Linked DNA regions of Homo sapiens: region 1 is linked to region 2. The links come from fine-mapping of genetic effects on gene expression. Tissue or cell type: whole blood. Region 2 holds a variant in brackets; the other region holds the start of a gene. All regions are shown on one strand. Distances are from middle to middle.

Region 1 (8,290 bases), 22 kb before region 2:
ACTCCGGGTCTGGAGGGCCAGGGCCACTTCCAATTCTGGGGGAAGTTATTGCTGAAATTCTGTTTTCTTTCTTTCTTTCTTTTTTTTTTAAAGAGACAAAGTCTCACTGTTGCCCAGGCTGGAGTGCAATGGTGTGATCACAACTCACTGCAGCCTCAAAATCCTGGTCTTGGCTGGGCCAGTGGCTCACACCTATAATCTCAGCACTTTGGGAGGCCAAGGCAGGTGGATCACCTGAGGCCAGGAGTTCAAGACCAGCCTGACCAACATGGTGAAACTCCGTCTCTACTAAAAACACAAAAATTAACCGGGTGTGGTGGCGCGTGCCTGTAATCCCAGATACTCGGGAGGTTGAGGCAGGAGAATCACTTGAACCCGGGAGATGGAGGCTGTAGTGAGCCGAGATTGTACCACTGCACTCCAGCTTGGGCGACAGAGGGAGACTCCGTCTCAAAAAAAAATCCTGGGATCAAGCTATCATGCTACCTCAGCCTGCCAAGTAGCTGGGACCATGGGCATATGCCACCATGCCTGGCTGCGTTTTTGCATTTTTTCTAGAGATAAGGTCTCATTACATTGCCCAGGCTGGTCTTGAACTCCTGGCCTCAAGTGATCCTCCCGCATTGGCCTCCCAAGAAATTCTTACTAAACATTTACAAATGAGATGCCAAAACAGCACTTCAGTAATAGTGGTTATATTTTATAGTTCTCTACACAGAAAAAAAAATGCTGCTTGTAACACTCATAGACATGAAAGTATTTCTCTGCCTATTTAAATAATTCTGGATTGCAGTGAGCCACCAGGATTTTGGCAGCCAGATGTCACCATGATTTCTCATAAAACTGATGATGTTACATCAGTGGTGGCCTGAATCAAGATGCTGGGATGCCTGTAACCTACAGATTGGTTTCAGACTCCAAAGGCAACTTTTTTTTTTTTTTTTTTTTGAGACGGAGTCTGGCTCTGCCACCCTGCCACCCAGGCTGAAGTACAGTGGTGTGATCTAGGCTCACTGCAACCTCTGCCTCCAGGGTTCAAGTGATTCTCCTGCCTTGGCCTCCTGAGTAGCTGGGATTACAGGCATGCACCACCATGCCCAGCTATTTATTTTTTTTAGTAGAGATGGGGTTTCAAAATGTTGGCCAGGCTGGTCTTGAACTCCTGACCTCAAGTGATCCGCCCACCTCAGCCTCCCAAAGTGCTGGGATTACAGCTGTGAGCCACCGCGCCCAGCCCTGGCCTCTTTTTTTAAGTTATTTATTTATTTTTGAGACAGAGTCTCACTCTGTCGCCCAGGCTGTGGTGCAGTGGCATGGTCTTGGTTCACTGCAACCTCTGCCTCCTGGGTTCAAGTGATTCTCCTGCCTCAGCCTCTGGAGTAGGTGGGATTACAGGCACCCGCCACCATACCTGGCTAATTTTCTTTTTTTTTTTTTGAGACAAAGTCTTGCTCTTGTCCCCCAGTCTGGAGTGCAATGGCACGATCTCGGCTCACTGCAACCTCCGCTTCCCAGGTTCATGCAATTCTCCTGCCTCAGCCTCCCGAGTAGCTGGGATTACAGGCACATACCACCACGCCCAGCTAGTTTTTCGTATTTTAAGTAGAGACAGGGTTTCACCATGTTGGCCAGGCTGGTCTCAAACTCCTGACCTCAGGTGATCTGTCTGCCTCGGCCTCCCAAAGTGCTGTGATTACAGGCATGAGCCACCGCACCCGGCTGACTAATTTTTGTATTTATAGTAGAGACAGGGTTTCACCATGTTGGCCAGGCTGGTCTCGAACTGCTGACCTCATGATCTGCCCGCCTCGGCCTCCCAAAGTGCTGGGATTACAGGCGTGAGCCACCGTGCCCGGCCAGTTTATTTACTTATTTTTAAGAGGCGGGCGTCTTGCTCTGTAACCCAGGCTGGAGTGCAGTGGTGCGATCATAGCTCACTGCAGCCTCCAACTCCCGGGCTCAAGTGATCCTCCTGCCTCAGCCTTCCAAGTAGGTGGGATTACAGGAACACACCACCATGCCTGGCTAATTTTTTGTAGTTTTTGTAGAGATGGGGGGGTCTCACTATGTTGCACAGGCGGGTCTCAAACTCCTGGGCTCAAGTGATCTTCCTGCCCTGGCTTCCCAAAGTGTTGGGATTACAGGCATGAGCCACCGCGCTCAGGCAAGGCAACTTCTGACAATATAATTGTGCTGTGAGCGAGGTAAAGCCAGGCTTGGAGAAGGCTCCGATTGATGATCCTTGGGTCGGGGCGAACAGTGGGTCCTCAAACAGGGCCCACGTTTCAAGTCCTGGAAAACCCACCTATCTTAGCGGGCAGGTATATCCGATGTCTCCGTTGAAGGCCTTCAGTGAGGTGGCTTCGTCTCTTGAGGTTTATGTCCAGGATCAGGGCTGCTCTTCCACTCGGGGTCACAACCTCTGGCTCACCACCTTGTCAGGAGCCAGCCCACTAAGTCACGTTTCAGGCCTGAAAACCAACAACAAAAGATCCGTAAAGACAGAAATCCTGGGACTGGCTCCTAACAACGGCCAGTGACAAGCTTTGTGGCAGTGAGCAGAGGTGTCCCTCAGGCTCAGCTCAGTCTCTGTGGGTTGCAGGACCTGCCCTTGGAGGTGGGCCTGGGTGGGAGGTCTTAGGGCCCCAGGACCTGGGCCACCTGGGGCTTTTTTTTTTTTTTTCTTTTTGAGATGGAGTCTTGCTCTGTCGCCCAGACTGGAGTGCAGTGGTGCAATCTTGGCTCACTGCAAGCTCCACCTCCTGGGTTCAAGCGATTCTCCTGCCTCAGCTTCCTAAGTAGCTCGGATTACAGGCGCCCACCATCATGCACGGCTAATTTTTGTATTTTTAGTAGAGGCGGGGTTTCACCATGTTGGTCAGGCTGGTCTCAAACTCCTCACCTTGTGATCTGCCCACCTCGGCCTCCCAAAGTGCTGGGATTACAGGCATGAGCCACCGCGCCCAGCCCACCTGGGGCATTTTTGTTGCTGTACAATAGAAACAAGTTCTCTATATGTTCCCCAGGCTGGTCCAAACTCCTGGGCTCAAGTGATCCTCCCACCTAGACCTCCCAAAGTGCTGGGATTTCAGGCATGAGCCGCAGTGGCCGGTCAGAACCTGGGGCCCTTTTGAACTTTGATTCCTCAGCAATTTTGTCAGCCCTGGCTCGGGCTGAGAAGCCCCTGTGAAGCCAGAGAGGGAAAGGGACCTGTCCAGGGTCACACAGGAATCATGCGTCAAGCCTCCCCAGCCACGGACTTGTCTCCATCCAGGGCATTTCAGCCCCTGCAGGGCAGTGGCCTGCCCCTCCTCCTTGGAGCCAGGAAGGGATGCAGTGCCACAGGGATCTGGCTCTGTCCCAGGCCCTGTGGGGCTGGCAGTTGAGTAAGCAGTCAGGCTGGGCGCACCCATCCCTCCCCCACTCCCCACTGCCCAGCACAGTGCATTCATGCAGCTGGGCCCCACCCCATCTCCAGAGGCACCTTCCACTAGCAACAGTCTCCCCAGGCACAACACAGCTAACACAAGGCCCCGCAGGCAGGACTCTGGGACAGACGCAGGCCAGGTGAGCATCTGAACAAGGGGCAGTCGGCCAGGGTGGGCTTGCGGGAGTCCCCACCTTGACCTCTCTCCCTTCCAGCTGCCCAGAGCCCAGACCAAGCATGGACGCCGTGGATGCCACCATGGAGAAACTCCGGGCACAGTGCCTGTCCCGCGGGGCCTCGGGCATCCAGGGCCTGGCCAGGTGAGCTGTCCCCTCTCACCTTCCTGACCCCGGCCCCTGAGACCACTGTTCCAACCGTGTCCCCTGCCTCCAGGTTTTTCCGCCAACTAGACCGGGACGGGAGCAGATCCCTGGACGCTGATGAGTTCCGGCAGGGTCTGGCCAAACTCGGGCTGGTGCTGGACCAGGCGGAGGCAGAGGGTGTGTGCAGGAAGTGGGACCGCAATGGCAGCGGGACGCTGGATCTGGAGGAGTTCCTTCGGGCGCTGCGGGTGAGCCCCCACCTCACAGTCAAGGCGTGTGCCCTGGGCATGGGGCGACAGAGGATGCTGAGATGCGGAGACGGGGACTCCTCCCTAAGAGCTGCTGTTAAGAGGCGCCTGCTGGGGCATACAGCCCCAGTGCTCTGCACAGCGTCTTGGGGGTTTGGGTGTGCTACCCACCACCCCCAGTCACCACCTCCTGTCCCAGCCCCCCATGTCCCAGGCCCGGGAGGCTGTCATCGCAGCTGCATTTGCCAAGCTGGACCGCAGTGGGGACGGCGTCGTGACGGTGGACGACCTCCGCGGGGTGTACAGTGGCCGTGCCCACCCCAAGGTGCGCAGTGGGGAGTGGACCGAGGACGAGGTGCTGCGCCGCTTCCTGGACAACTTCGACTCCTCTGAGAAGGACGGGCAGGTGGGTGGCTGCGCGGGGGGCCCCCTCCCCAGGCAGTTCCTCGGCCGTGCCCCCTCACGGCCCTCTGTTCCCAGGTCACACTGGCGGAATTCCAGGACTACTACAGCGGCGTGAGTGCCTCCATGAACACGGATGAGGAGTTCGTGGCCATGATGACCAGTGCCTGGCAGCTGTGAGCAGCTCCGGCTCAGCCCTGCTGCCCTGGCCTGTCACTCCCCACCCCTGCCGGAGACCTCCCTTCCCTGGGCCCCTTCTCTCCTGGGCAGCCACACCACAGAGCGGGGAGGGGCAGGTGGGGGAATGGAGGCTGCAGGACTGGCTAGACCAGGTCCCTGCCGGTCCACCAGGCGGAGGTGGGACAAAGGTCCTAACAGGAGTCACTGGCTCAGGACCCCAGGGAGAAACGCTCTCCCCACCCACGCCATGCTGACCAGAGATCTTGCAGCCCCTGTGGATGCCCCCGCCGAGGTCCCCCGATCCCCGCACCCGGACTGCTGCTCCCTGCCCCTCCCTTGCGGGTCCCCCAGGAAGCCAGGTGACCCCAGGTGGGAGGCTGTGTGTGGAGGCCATCCTGGAAGGAAGTTTAGACCTGCCCAGGTGTGGAGCGAGGGGCACAGGGGCATCCTAACCTCAGAAACTGAAATAAAGCCTTTGAAAAAAAAATCTGTAAAACATCAACCCCCAATCAGAAGATGGCAAATGGGGAATAAAAATAGCAGGTAACATGTCCAGCGGGCCCAGTATCTACATTCTGGTGAGCGGCCCGAGGCTGGGAGCTCTGGGCGGGGGCAGACCGGCGGGGCCTTGCAGCAGGGGTGGGGGTAAAGTGCGGGTGGTGGTGGAGAGAACAGGGCTGTGGCTGGACCCCAGCACTGGTGACACGCTGGGTGGGAGCATGAGGCCCCAGGCTGCTGGAGGTCCTCGCCCGGGGAGGTGGAGGCCGTTCCTGGTCAGGGGCTTCCTGAGGCCCCTGGGGCATGCAGAGGCCAGGGTTTTAGTTAAAAGTTTAATGTAGTTCCCAAATACATTTCATATGACAATCTTACATAAATGTTCCAAAACACATGGGCGTTATCTCGTTGTACTCGTCACTAGCTGGCTAAGGCTTAAAGCAGAGACGTGTGACTGGGTCTCTCGGGAGGGCCTCTGGTTCTTCCCGGGCTCAGGCTTGCTGGGGGCTGGGGGCCAGGGCTCTGGCGACCTAGAGGTGTGGACGGCACAGCTGCAGGAGGCCTTCTCTTAACCCTCCGAGAGTGGGACTGGGAGATTTCCTCTGAAGTCCCAAAGAGGCCCTGTGCCCAGGGGACCTCCTCCTCGGCCTCCCAGGTGGGTGGTGCAAGCTGGCTCTTGGCCATGCTCCAGGCTCGGGTGGGCACAGGCGTCCACTCCAGTGTGCTGCGTGCTTGTGAGACTGCCTGTTCTGGGACCAGCCCCTGGGCTCTTCCACCAAGATTTGGTGAGGGTCCCCCTCTGCCTCTCACAGAAGCCCCTGGCCCTGGACTGTCCTGGGGGCAGGGACACCTGTGGCTGGGGAAGGGATGGCCAACAGCGGGAAGCAGTTTGCGCCTGGTGCCTGATGATGGTGAACCACGTGACAGATGGAGACGGGAGTCAGGGGACCCTGGGGACCCTTCCAGGTCCAGTGACCTTTTCCCAGACAGGCACTCTCCAGGCCTAGGACAGACAGGGCCCCAACTCCTCATCACCCCATGACTTGGCCTGGAGGAACCTGGGGTGGGAAACAAGTAGTCCCCCAACCTCAGAGGCCAGAACCACAGGTGGGGGACAGGGACCTCGACAGAGCTGTGCCTGCTCAACGCTCGAGAGCATCTTAACCTAAGAAACCAAAACAAAGCCTTCGAAAATAAAAAGAAAAAAAGATGTAAAATATACACCCCCAATCAGAGAGGGGAAGTGGGAAATGAAGATAGTAGTTAACAGCACGTCCAATGGGCCCAGTGTCTACACTCGTACGAGCAGCCCCCCAAGCTGGGCGGGGGTCCCAGGCCTATAGTTGGGGAGCCCTGGGCAGGGGCAGAGGGCTGGCTGCTCCCCACAAAGGCAGGGCCCCACAGCAGGGTGGGAAGGGTGTGGGTGGCGGAGAAGCCAGGGGCTCTGGCTGGACCCAGAGGCTGGCGACACGCGGGGTGAAGGAACGAGGTCTCCAGTCCCAGTGAGAAGCCGTGACAAGTCTTAATGTGCCATTTCAATTCAAAGGAGGGGAGGGAGGAAATGTTCTTGTTTGTTCGCTCATCAATATGATGAGGTCTCGTGTCCCAAACCACATTCAGGCAGTTCCCGAGTCTGCTTTTGAACAGGACGTGCGGGTCCAGACTGTGGCCGGCCCAGTGGGGTGTGTGGTTCCCGGCCCCGCACCTGGACGCTGCCGGTGGGGTGGGGGCGGGTGGGCGGGTGGATAGACGGACAAAGCAGCAGCCTGGTGTGCAGCCGGGCTCCCGGCCGCTATGTGCTCCCGGTCGTCTGCCCGTCCCCTTCGTCACCAGCACCTGCAGGGAAGCAGCAGCCCCGCATCAGGATGGAGCCCGCACTTCCCAGGTCTGGCCACCCCCGCCAGGAGATCAGCACTGGATCAAGGATGGCGGGCAGCTCTTTCTATCCCCCCCAGGGTAGGGACCACCCGACTCACCAGCTGCGGTGGCCCCTGAAGGAGCCAGGACATCGTCATCGTCGCTGTCGTCCTCCTCGTTGGATGGGGCTGCCCCAGGCTCAGGCGCGGGCATCTTGGCCTCCTGCTCCTGCTCCACGCGGCTGCGCAGGGCCAGGATGCGGTGGTGCAGGGCTGCATACAACTGACCTGTGTCCTTGGAGCTGGCCTGGGAAGGGAGGAGGGTATGAGACCCCCGGACCCCAGTCCTACCCCCTCCTGCCTTCTGCAGAACACAAGTGCCAAGTCCCAAGGTTCAGAGGTGACACTGCCACAAGGCCTTGTGGGGAGGCCATTGGCCCTGGGCCTGCCGGCCTCTCCCCGAAAGGATGCCACCACTCCCAGGTGGCTGGGAATATCCCAGAGGTCAGGGTTGGTGGACTCGACTGTGACACCATGACATAGGAGAGAGGTGACCGCCCCACAGGGCTGTTAGCCCTGAACACATCACAACCCCTCAGCCAAACCCCAGCGGCTTCTCTGGGTTGAGAAGAGGACAAGGACCATGATCTCTATTCCTGAAGGCTGGGACTGGCGGGTCCCATAGTGCTTCTTGTGTCCCAGGAAGCAACTGAAGCCCCTCCCCCCTCCCCTCCCCACCGTCCTGCCTGATCTGTGTGCCCAGGAACCCCCACAGGGCTGGCAGGATGAGGGGTCCCAGATGCACCCGCGTGGCTGGCTCACCGAGATCAGGAAGACCTTCACGCCCTGGTCCTCGGTGTCCATGGCTGTGATGCGAATGCTCTTCTCGCTGGCCTTGTCGATCTGCATCTGGGCCCACAGCTTGGTGTTGAGGATCAGTCGCAGGCTCCCCTGGGTCCGCATCACTACAACCAACAAGGCCACTCAGCCCTGGCCCCCACACCGGCCCCCTCACAAACAGCCAGCTCCAAGAGCCAACACAGTCCAGATGGAAAGCGACATCACCGCGCAAAAGCCCATGATCCTCCCAGGACCCACCCACAGAGCAAGACTTCTCCCTGAGGCCAGCCCTGGCACACCTGCTCCCGGGGCGGGGCTCCTCCTCCCCAAGCCTGGACCACTGAAGGCCACAACTGCAGGTGGCTGCACAGGCTGGTGCTGCAGATCAGTGACCAGAGGCCACATGCAGCTTGTGGGAGGTTGTGTTTGGTCCACACAGGTGGGCACCAGGATGGCAGTTCCCTTGGAGAAGGGGGGATTAGAGAGGAGTACGGGGTGGGCTGCGGGAGGCAGGGGCTG
Region 2 (8,323 bases):
TGGCTTGGCAGACCTAGGAACAGAAGGCGGCCTTCCCAGTGCCCGTGGACCCCTGCCTGCCCCCAGGCGCTTCAGAGACTGACCCCTGGCATCCCATTTCATGCCCCTTGCAGGCTAGACTTTGCAGGGAAGCACTTTTTTAAAAACTTGAGGTCTTTTTTTAACAGCTGGCCAGGAGATCTGGCTACTGTTATTTTTACATGTGATTACATGAAACTCCCAGTGACCGACGCCTGTGAATTAATCCAGTTAGCACAGTAACGTGGCGGGGCGCCGGCAGACTCAACAGTCAAGTGGAGACTGTGGGAGGAGAGCAGTGCATTCACAGGCAGCTACCTGGAGGCTCAGGACTCGGTGTGGGGTCACGTACAGGCACATTTTGCACCTGTTTTTCAAAACAGCCATGCTGAGGAAGTCCCTCTGCCAAAGGCAGATGGGACAAGGACCCTTGCATGTGCCCTGCCCTGTGCAGCATCCCCGGCAGCCTCACTAGCAGCCGGCTCACTAGCAGCGCGCCGCTGGAATGCAGCCACCCTGCTAACTGGGGCGAACACTGTGGTATGTGGGGGCCAGAACATGAAGGACAGACAGGCTGAACCAAGTGCGCTACTGCTGGGCATGGAGCCCGCCCGATGCACCCCGCCTAGCCTGCTCCCGTGCCACCACTGCCCACTTTTCTGAACACACGACGCTCACAGTCAGGGGTCCCAACCTCCCTGCTCAGACAGCCTCTCTTTAAAGGAACTTTCCAGGGCTCGTGGGTCAAGTTACAAGTGATCTTTCTAGAAAGCAGGCTGAGCCCGCGGTGCCCTGGTGTGGCCTAGCAGAGGTCTGAAAAACGTCAGAGAGCCACCCCCCGCCCCAGGGAGGTAGACGACCTACCTGCGCTGGGGGCTTGGCCGTGGATCAGCGTTGGTGGCTTCAACCGGAAGCCACTGCTCCTTTCCTCTAAAAGCACAAGACAAAATATCAACAGCAGGCCTGCCTGGGCTGGGGCTGGGCCTGGGGGGCAAGGGCAGGAGAGGACTATGGTCTTGGCCTCAGTGACTTCGGGCCTGGAGAACCAGGGAGAACATTTCCAAATTACAACAGAAGTCTCGTCCGATCAGCAGGCCTGGAAGGCGCCTGGAGGAGGGGAGAGACAAGGGCAGGAGGAACGATGGCTCTTGGGCCAGCTGCTGACCATGGGGGCAGGTGGGGCGTCAGCCGCCCTCCCAGCTGTCTATGACCTGCTGCAGGCTCAGGAGCCGAGCTGCTCAGCGGCCCTGTACCTGGCTCTGGAGAATGTCAGGGAGCCACGGAACACAGGCGCTCAGGCCCCACTTCCCTTTCCTAGAAGGCTTGTCTGTCAGAGGATGCGGCTGTGGCCAGGAAGAACCTTGGCACCACTACAGATGTCTGGGAAGTGAGACAGGTTTTTGTGATGAAAAGGTCAAAGGTGGCACACAGTGAGCCTGCCTCCCCTTTCCAGATGTGCCTGCGGAGCTTCCCGTCTCAGTGAGGGGGCACTCCTGGCCACCGTGGAGGAGGCCAGCTCCCCCTGGGCCAGAGTCCGGGCTGACAAATTCACAAAACTAGAGGGAAAGGTGAATGCCCACGAGCTCCTGGGATGGCTCGAGAGCCCAGCCTCGCCCAGCCACCTGTCCACATGGACCCCTTCATCTGTGTGTCTTGGCAACTGTGCCCATACAGGGAGTGGGGATGGTGGTCTAATCTGATCCACAACAGGAAGGATTGTCATAAAAGGCCTGTGACTCAGGCAGGCAAGCCTGTTCCTGGGCAAGGCACAGAGACTGTGGCATTATGGCTCCTGGAGGTAGCCCTGCGTTTGTGCTAAGCTTCACCCCCTTGTCAAGCTACAGGACACAAGATCAATATACAAAAATCGATTGTGTTTCTAACACTAGCAGTGAATGACCCAAAAGCAAAATTAAGAAAATAATTCCATTTACAATAACACCAAAAGGAATAAAATACTTGGGAATACATTTCACAAGATAAAACTATAAAACAATGTTAGGGCCGGGTGCAGTGGCTCATGCCTGTAATCCCAGTGCTTTGGGAGGCTGAGGCAGGAGGACTGCATGAGCCCAAGAGTTTGAGATCAGCCTGGGCAACACTGCAAGACCCTAACTCTACAAAAAATTAAAAACTTAGCCAGGCATGGTGGTACATGCCTGTAGTCCCAGCTACTCAGGAGGCAGAGGTGGGAAGATCACTTGAGCCTGGGAGCTTGAGGTTACAGTTGAGTTACGACTGTACCACTGCACTCCAGCCTGGGCGACAGAGTGAGACCTTGTCTCAAACAAAACAAAAACATTGTTGGAAGAAATTAAAGGTGTAAATCAAAAGAAAAACACCCCCTCATGCTGTCTGATTGCATTTCTGTGAAATGCCAGACTAAGCAGAAAGGAGCTGAGCGGTTACCAGGGCTCAAGGGAGGGGGTTGGGGGCAGGCTGTGACTAACAGGGATGAGGTTTCTTTTTGGGATGATGGAAATGTTCTAAAATTAATCACGTGATGGTCGCACAACTCTGTGGATGTACTAAAACCACTCAATTGTACACTAAAACGATGACAACAAAACCCAAAACACCTTGTCAGCCCAAATTTTCAGACTCCAAATCAAGATTCAGCAGGCCAAGGAAGACCCCTCTCCCGCTGTGCCCCGGAGGCGCCGCTGTGCCTGGGCAGCAAGAGGATTGCAGCAACCCTTCTTACTATAATAGTTGTATGAGGGAGTCCAGCCCCAGGGGCTTCTGGCAGCCTGTGTTAGCAGAGCTGGTGCCTCTCCCGTAACAGACTGGTCATAAAAAAACAAACTCAGGAGAGCCAGATCCTGCAGGATGCGGGGGTGAGCCGCCAGATGTTCCTTTTCCGAAGGAAACACTCAATTACATTTCCAAAGCACGGAGCTATGCAGAAGACGACTGGCAATTTAGATACATTTTTAAAAGGTCAAATTCACAATTTAGATAGTTTTTAGCAAGCTCTTCAAGCTGGCTCTCCACGCTGATGTTTTGGTCACAGACTGACTACTGCCCTTCCACACTCCGCTCCGTGCAGCGCTGGCGCTAACGCTGAGGGGAGCCTGGGGGCTGGCCCGAGCTGCCAAGCGGAAGCAGGAGACTTGGATAATCCCTGCCACCGACCTGCCACTAGTGCTAGGCCCAGAGCGTGGCCCTCTCCAGAGCTGCAGACAGACAAGGCGTGCTCCAGGGGTAGCCAAAATCTGGAGGTCCCTGTCACAGGCCCTGCTCCACGAAAACAAGGGTGGTCTCTTCTCATTCCTTCCAGAAATTTTCTTCTGCAACACAGGTCGCAACACAAGCTGCTGAATCATGGCCAGAGCCCGACGCCTGCCACATACCCAAAGGGTGTGGGCCTGTAGAGGATGCTGCACCAGTCTCTGAGGGATGCGCATCACTCCAGAGAGGAAGAGGACCCCTCCCGCCGGCAGCCTTTGCCCTCCTGGGAAGCTGGCAGGCTCCCTGTCTGAGGGTGCTTTTCGCCTGCCTCAGAGAGCCCCAAGTGATGTCTGTGGGAAGCCATGCTTGCCCCCCAGGGAGCCCCGATTTAACCAGGGAAGGGATGGGAATGAGACTGTGTGCATCAAATGCTGAGAAGGCAGCCTGGCTGGAGCTGGGGTCTGTGCGTGGACGGCGCTGGTGCAGGGTGGGGAGGAGGCTCAGCCATGCGGTGGGCAGGGAGTGATGCCTGATGCACAGAGGACAGAGGGTGCCGGTTTCTTAGTGCCAGAAGAGGGAGGAATATACCAAGGGAGGCACCCACGTGCCCCTGGCGTCATCTCCACATGCAGGCAGGCAGGCAGAAAGTAAGAGATCATGTGGACAAAGGTGTGTCCCCAGCTCTGTCCGTCATCTCCACATGCAGGCAGGCAGGCAGGCAGAGAGTAAGAGATCATGTGGACAAAGGTGTGTCCCCAGCTCTGTCCGCGGAGGGCCGGGAGCAGGGCTACACCTGAGTCAGTGAGATCGCAGTACCGCACGGAGTGATTTCAGACCTTGGTTTCTAAAGACCATGTTCCCTGAAGAACCAGCGTGCCTCTGAGAAATGCAGATTCCAGGACTGGGATGAGAAAAGAGGCTGAGCCGGGAGGCTCTTGTTGTGACAAAGTAAGGGCAGTGCTCAAATGAACAACGGGGACCTGCCTGACAGGGCTTCCACTGGCCAAATCTGGGACAACCTGAACATTAAATAAAAACCAGTAACCATAGACGGTCACCCACTGATGCCAACAGAAGCTCGCCTGTCTATGTTGACACAATCGATCAAGGAACAAGCACGTGGGGAGAAGGGCAAGCTCCTCCTTCCAGTGAACACCACTAATCAACGCGGCAGGGATGGTGCTCAGAGTATCCCACGGGTGGTGAGTGCCTGTAATCCCAGCTACTTGAGAGGCTGAGGCTTGAGAATCTCTTGAGCTCAGGAGGCAGAGGGTGCAGTGAGCCAAGATTGTGCCACTGCACTCCAGCCTGGGCAACAGAGCAAGACTCTGTCTCCAAAAAAAAAAAAAAAAAAAAAAAAAAAAGGAAGAAAATCCCATGGGGCAGTCGTCAGCGGGAAACATCACTCTAAAGACATCACTGGGCGCGAACACTGGAGGGCAGGAGTGTGATGAGGTACACACAGTCCCAGAGTCTAAAGTGTCTCTCAGAAACCATCCAGCACAAAGGGGAAAGTAGCTTTACAGTGGTGAAACCTGGCAGACAGCACCCTGATCGAGGAGCACGGCCACCCCGTGCTGGTAAGGGGACAAGTGAGTACTGTGCATGGCTTCTGTGACATTCTCATCCAAGATGCCACACCTGGGTCTCACCACCAGGACATACTGGACAGGCCCCAACTGAGACACTTCTACCCAACAGCTGACCTGTAATCCTCAAGGTCATGAAAGTCAAGGGAAGCCTGAAGACCTGTTCCCGATAAAAGTGGAGGTATGTGTGGTAGGACCAGGGTCTCAGTCCTTTTTTCTAATGGACTCATGGAGCTGACTGGAGAAAGCTAAATGGGGTCTTCAGACAAAAGGGACAGAGAAATTCTTCTGTAAGTGTTAAAGCTTTTCAAAATTAAAGCTAAAAAACAGAAGGCAGGCAGACAAGGATGTGAAGTTGG[G/C]TTTGCAGAACTGATGTGTGGCTGATATGACTGCCTTTTCATGCGTGAGGGCACTGGGGCTTTAAACCATGCCGCGTCGGGGCCTGCGAAACAGCTGCCCTGCTCGAGGCTGGAGGGGAAAGGTCTGTGGGGAGAGAGACAGGAGGGAGGCCGTTGCTCACAGACCTCAGAAGCGATCATGAGATTTGTAACAGAGCTCAGCAGCACAAATGGGTCCAGACACACGGCTTTAGTAACTGATCACCTAAAGCAGAACCTGCCTCACCGTGGCAGGCTCTGTGCCCCCATCCAGACCACCACCTGCTAAGCGACACCCCAGGAATAACCAACATCGTGCCCTTCCTGAGGACCCTGAAACACCAAGCCCCTCTGCAGGATGAGACCAGGTGGTCGGCTCAAAACAGTTTGCTTTTAGAGTCAAAATGCCTTGTTGAAACGGGGCCATCAACTCAATGCTGAGAGTTATAAGAACCCACCTCTTCCCTTGACACGGACATCACGCCAGCAGCTAACTTATCTCACAATGCTTTTGAAGTCGGCAATGAATTTATATATGGTAGGTTGGGTTACAGAATTCAGGTTGTTAAACTCGCTTGTTAAATCTTTTATGAGGAATTTCAGCCACGTGGGAGAAACTTTCAGGAAACCTTGGAGTTGGTTCTCCAGTGAAAGACCAAAAAGGCAGGCTCCATATTCTTCAGAAAGGGGGAGCGGCTTTCCTTAAAATTTTAAAGCTGGGGGCCAGACGTGGTGGCTCACGCCTGTAATCCTAGCACTTTGGGAGGCTGAGGCGGGAAGCTCGCTTGAGGTCAGGAGTTCGAGACCAGCCTGGCCAACACGGTGAAACCCTCGTCTCTACTAAAAATACAAAACATTAGCTGGGCATGGTGGCACATGCCTGTAATCCCAGCTACTTGGGAGGCTGAGGCAGGAGAATTGCTTGAACCCAGGAGGCAGAGGTTGCAGTGAGCCAAGATCGCCCCATTGCACTCCAGCCTGGGGGACAAGAGTGAAACTCCGTCTCCAAAACACACAAAAAGTTTTGAAGCTGTGATTAAACATATTTATCTAGGTAGGTCTGAGCAAAATTAATGTGAGAATGCACAAAAAAGAGGTCTAGAAATTCACCAACTTCACAGGCGTTACCTTTGGGATGGCAGGGTGAGTGGGGAAGGGGCAGGGATTCTTTTTAGTTGAAATATTTCTGATTTACTTTAAAGAAAAAACAATTATGGGCCAGGTGCGGTGGCTCATGCCTGTAATTCCAGTACTTTGGGAGGCCGAGACAGGTGCATCACCTGAGGTCAGGAGTTGGAGACCAGCCTGGCCAACAGGTGAAACCCTGTCTCTACTAAAAAAATACAAAATTACCCCGGCATTGTGGTGTGCGCCTGTAATCCCAGCTACTCGGGAAGCTGAGGCAGCAGAATCACTTGAACCCGGGAGGCGGAGGTTGCAGTGAGTTGAGATCACACCACTGCACTCCAGCCTGGGCAAAAAGAGTGAAAGTCTGTCTAAAAAACCAAAAAACCCCAATTATGAATGCATTACTTGTATAAAATTTTGAAAAATGAGTGATACATTTCTTCACAGGTTGTTTTTAGAGGACTTAGAGCTCCATGCAACCAGGCCCTGCTTGCAGAAACAAACATGAGGGCTTATGAAGCCTCATCTCACGCCAGATCCCCAGACTATGAGCTGAAGAGTTGGGGGAAAAATTTTAACAGCTGAAGAAGAACTGACTTTAAATGCCCGCTGAAGATCTGATTTTCCCACACCAATTGCTTTTCCTCCCAGGAGAACCCCCAGGCCGGGCGGGAAGGCAGAGGGGCCGGGGCTCACTTGGCTCTGAGTCGGAATTGCCTGCAGATGGCTCGCAGAAGCTTGATGGCATAAAAACATTGTTTTTTGAAACTGTTGACAAGGAGGTGCAGGCGGGGGAGGGAACAAGAGGAAAAACAGCATGAATGGGTGGGGTGGACGCTCAGAGATCACCTCTCCCACCTGAGGGGTGGATTCTCACGTCCCACGGGAGGAGACGGAACAGCACGCAAACAGGGCATTCAGTCTTTCCCGAGAACAGCAAACCCCAAGACTCTTTACAGCACTACGAGGGTCTCCAGCCCGACGGCCTTGATCTGTCTGATGACTACAGTCAACTCTGGTCAACTGGGGGCACCCCCTTGTCCCTGCACCTCTGCAGGGGCAGCCGGCAGGGGAGATATCAGATGCTCCAGGCCACATTGGAGGCCCTGACTCCTCCTCACCTGTCAAGGCTTGTCCATGGGGTTCCCCCTCCCCCACCTAAGATCTTCCTTCACCAGGGCAACTGCTTCCCAGGGTGTGGGCCAGCCAACAGGTTTCCACAAATGAAGTGGAATTCGTAGGGGAAGAACTCACTCTACGCAGAATGGAACCAAAGACAACACTGTTCAAATTATTGGTGCCCCTCACGCCTCCAGTTACCCTGGAGAGCTGAGTGTCTCTTGGGGGCTGCTGCGCTGGACGGGAGGTGATTTGAAGAGGGCCGGGGAGAAGAATGGTGGTCCCTCGCCTCTTTAGCCTACATTCACAGCCCAAACACCTCCTCTTCTCTATGCTGGTTTTCGATACAGCAAGCATGGTTCAGCAGTGGGCAGTGAGGGGGAAGGAATAAAATCAACGAGCAGGAAGTGGAGCTCCCTCATTCCACAGAACACCTATCCACAGGTGCAAAGATCCTTAAATTAAAAGGATGCCAACTGCAGCCTGGACTGCAAGCCATCTGGACAGTTCCGCAATATCCAGTCAGCAGATGACAGTGTAATAGCACTGGAAAACCTAATGCAGCTGTGCAAAAAGACGCGGCCATGTCCAAAACCAACGTGATGGGAAAAGGGCATGAAAACAAGGGTGTGGAGGGGTGACTTGGGAAGGACCCTGGCTTCCTACGCTGTGTGTTCCTGTAACGCATGCGTGACTTCTGTAAGCAGAAACAACTTGACATCCTGAAGGTTCAGGACTGTAAAATGATTTACATGAACTTTCCAGGAATGGATTTCAGTTGGGTAACCAGAGAACCTGTCTAAACACTCATGTATGTCCAAGTTGGCACTACAGACAGCTAAGACAGAGGCCACGAGACAATGCCAGAGTGGGAAGTCAAGACGGGGACGAGAGAATAGCCCTGCAGTGGCATTTACCCTC

What was found.
Region 1: CAPS starts here. The variant in region 2 is fine-mapped to the expression of CAPS in whole blood (TOPMed, PIP above 0.99).

The regions. Positions count from the first base shown.
Region 1 is chr19:5,910,743-5,919,032 of GRCh38, forward strand. It overlaps CAPS (calcyphosine), which reads left to right and starts at 3,512. Exons shown (of 5, transcript NM_004058.5): 1 at 3,512-3,567; 2 at 3,643-3,747; 3 at 3,821-3,998; 4 at 4,198-4,404; 5 at 4,479-5,469. The coding sequence starts at 3,665. The coding sequence ends at 4,580. VMAC (vimentin type intermediate filament associated coiled-coil protein) reads left to right here. Exons shown (of 2, transcript NM_001017921.4): 2 at 1-111. RANBP3 (RAN binding protein 3) reads right to left here. Exons shown (of 17, transcript NM_007322.3): 15 at 7,754-7,896; 16 at 7,052-7,238; 17 at 5,397-6,911. The coding sequence ends at 6,868.
Region 2 is chr19:5,932,532-5,940,854 of GRCh38, forward strand. RANBP3 (RAN binding protein 3) reads right to left here. Exons shown (of 17, transcript NM_007322.3): 6 at 883-948; 7 at 1-13. Among named protein-coding and RNA genes, the nearest start is that of CAPS, 22 kb to the left of the region's middle. RefSeq lists a silencer at 7,243-7,423. The variant G/C (reference allele first, on the strand shown) is at 5,138.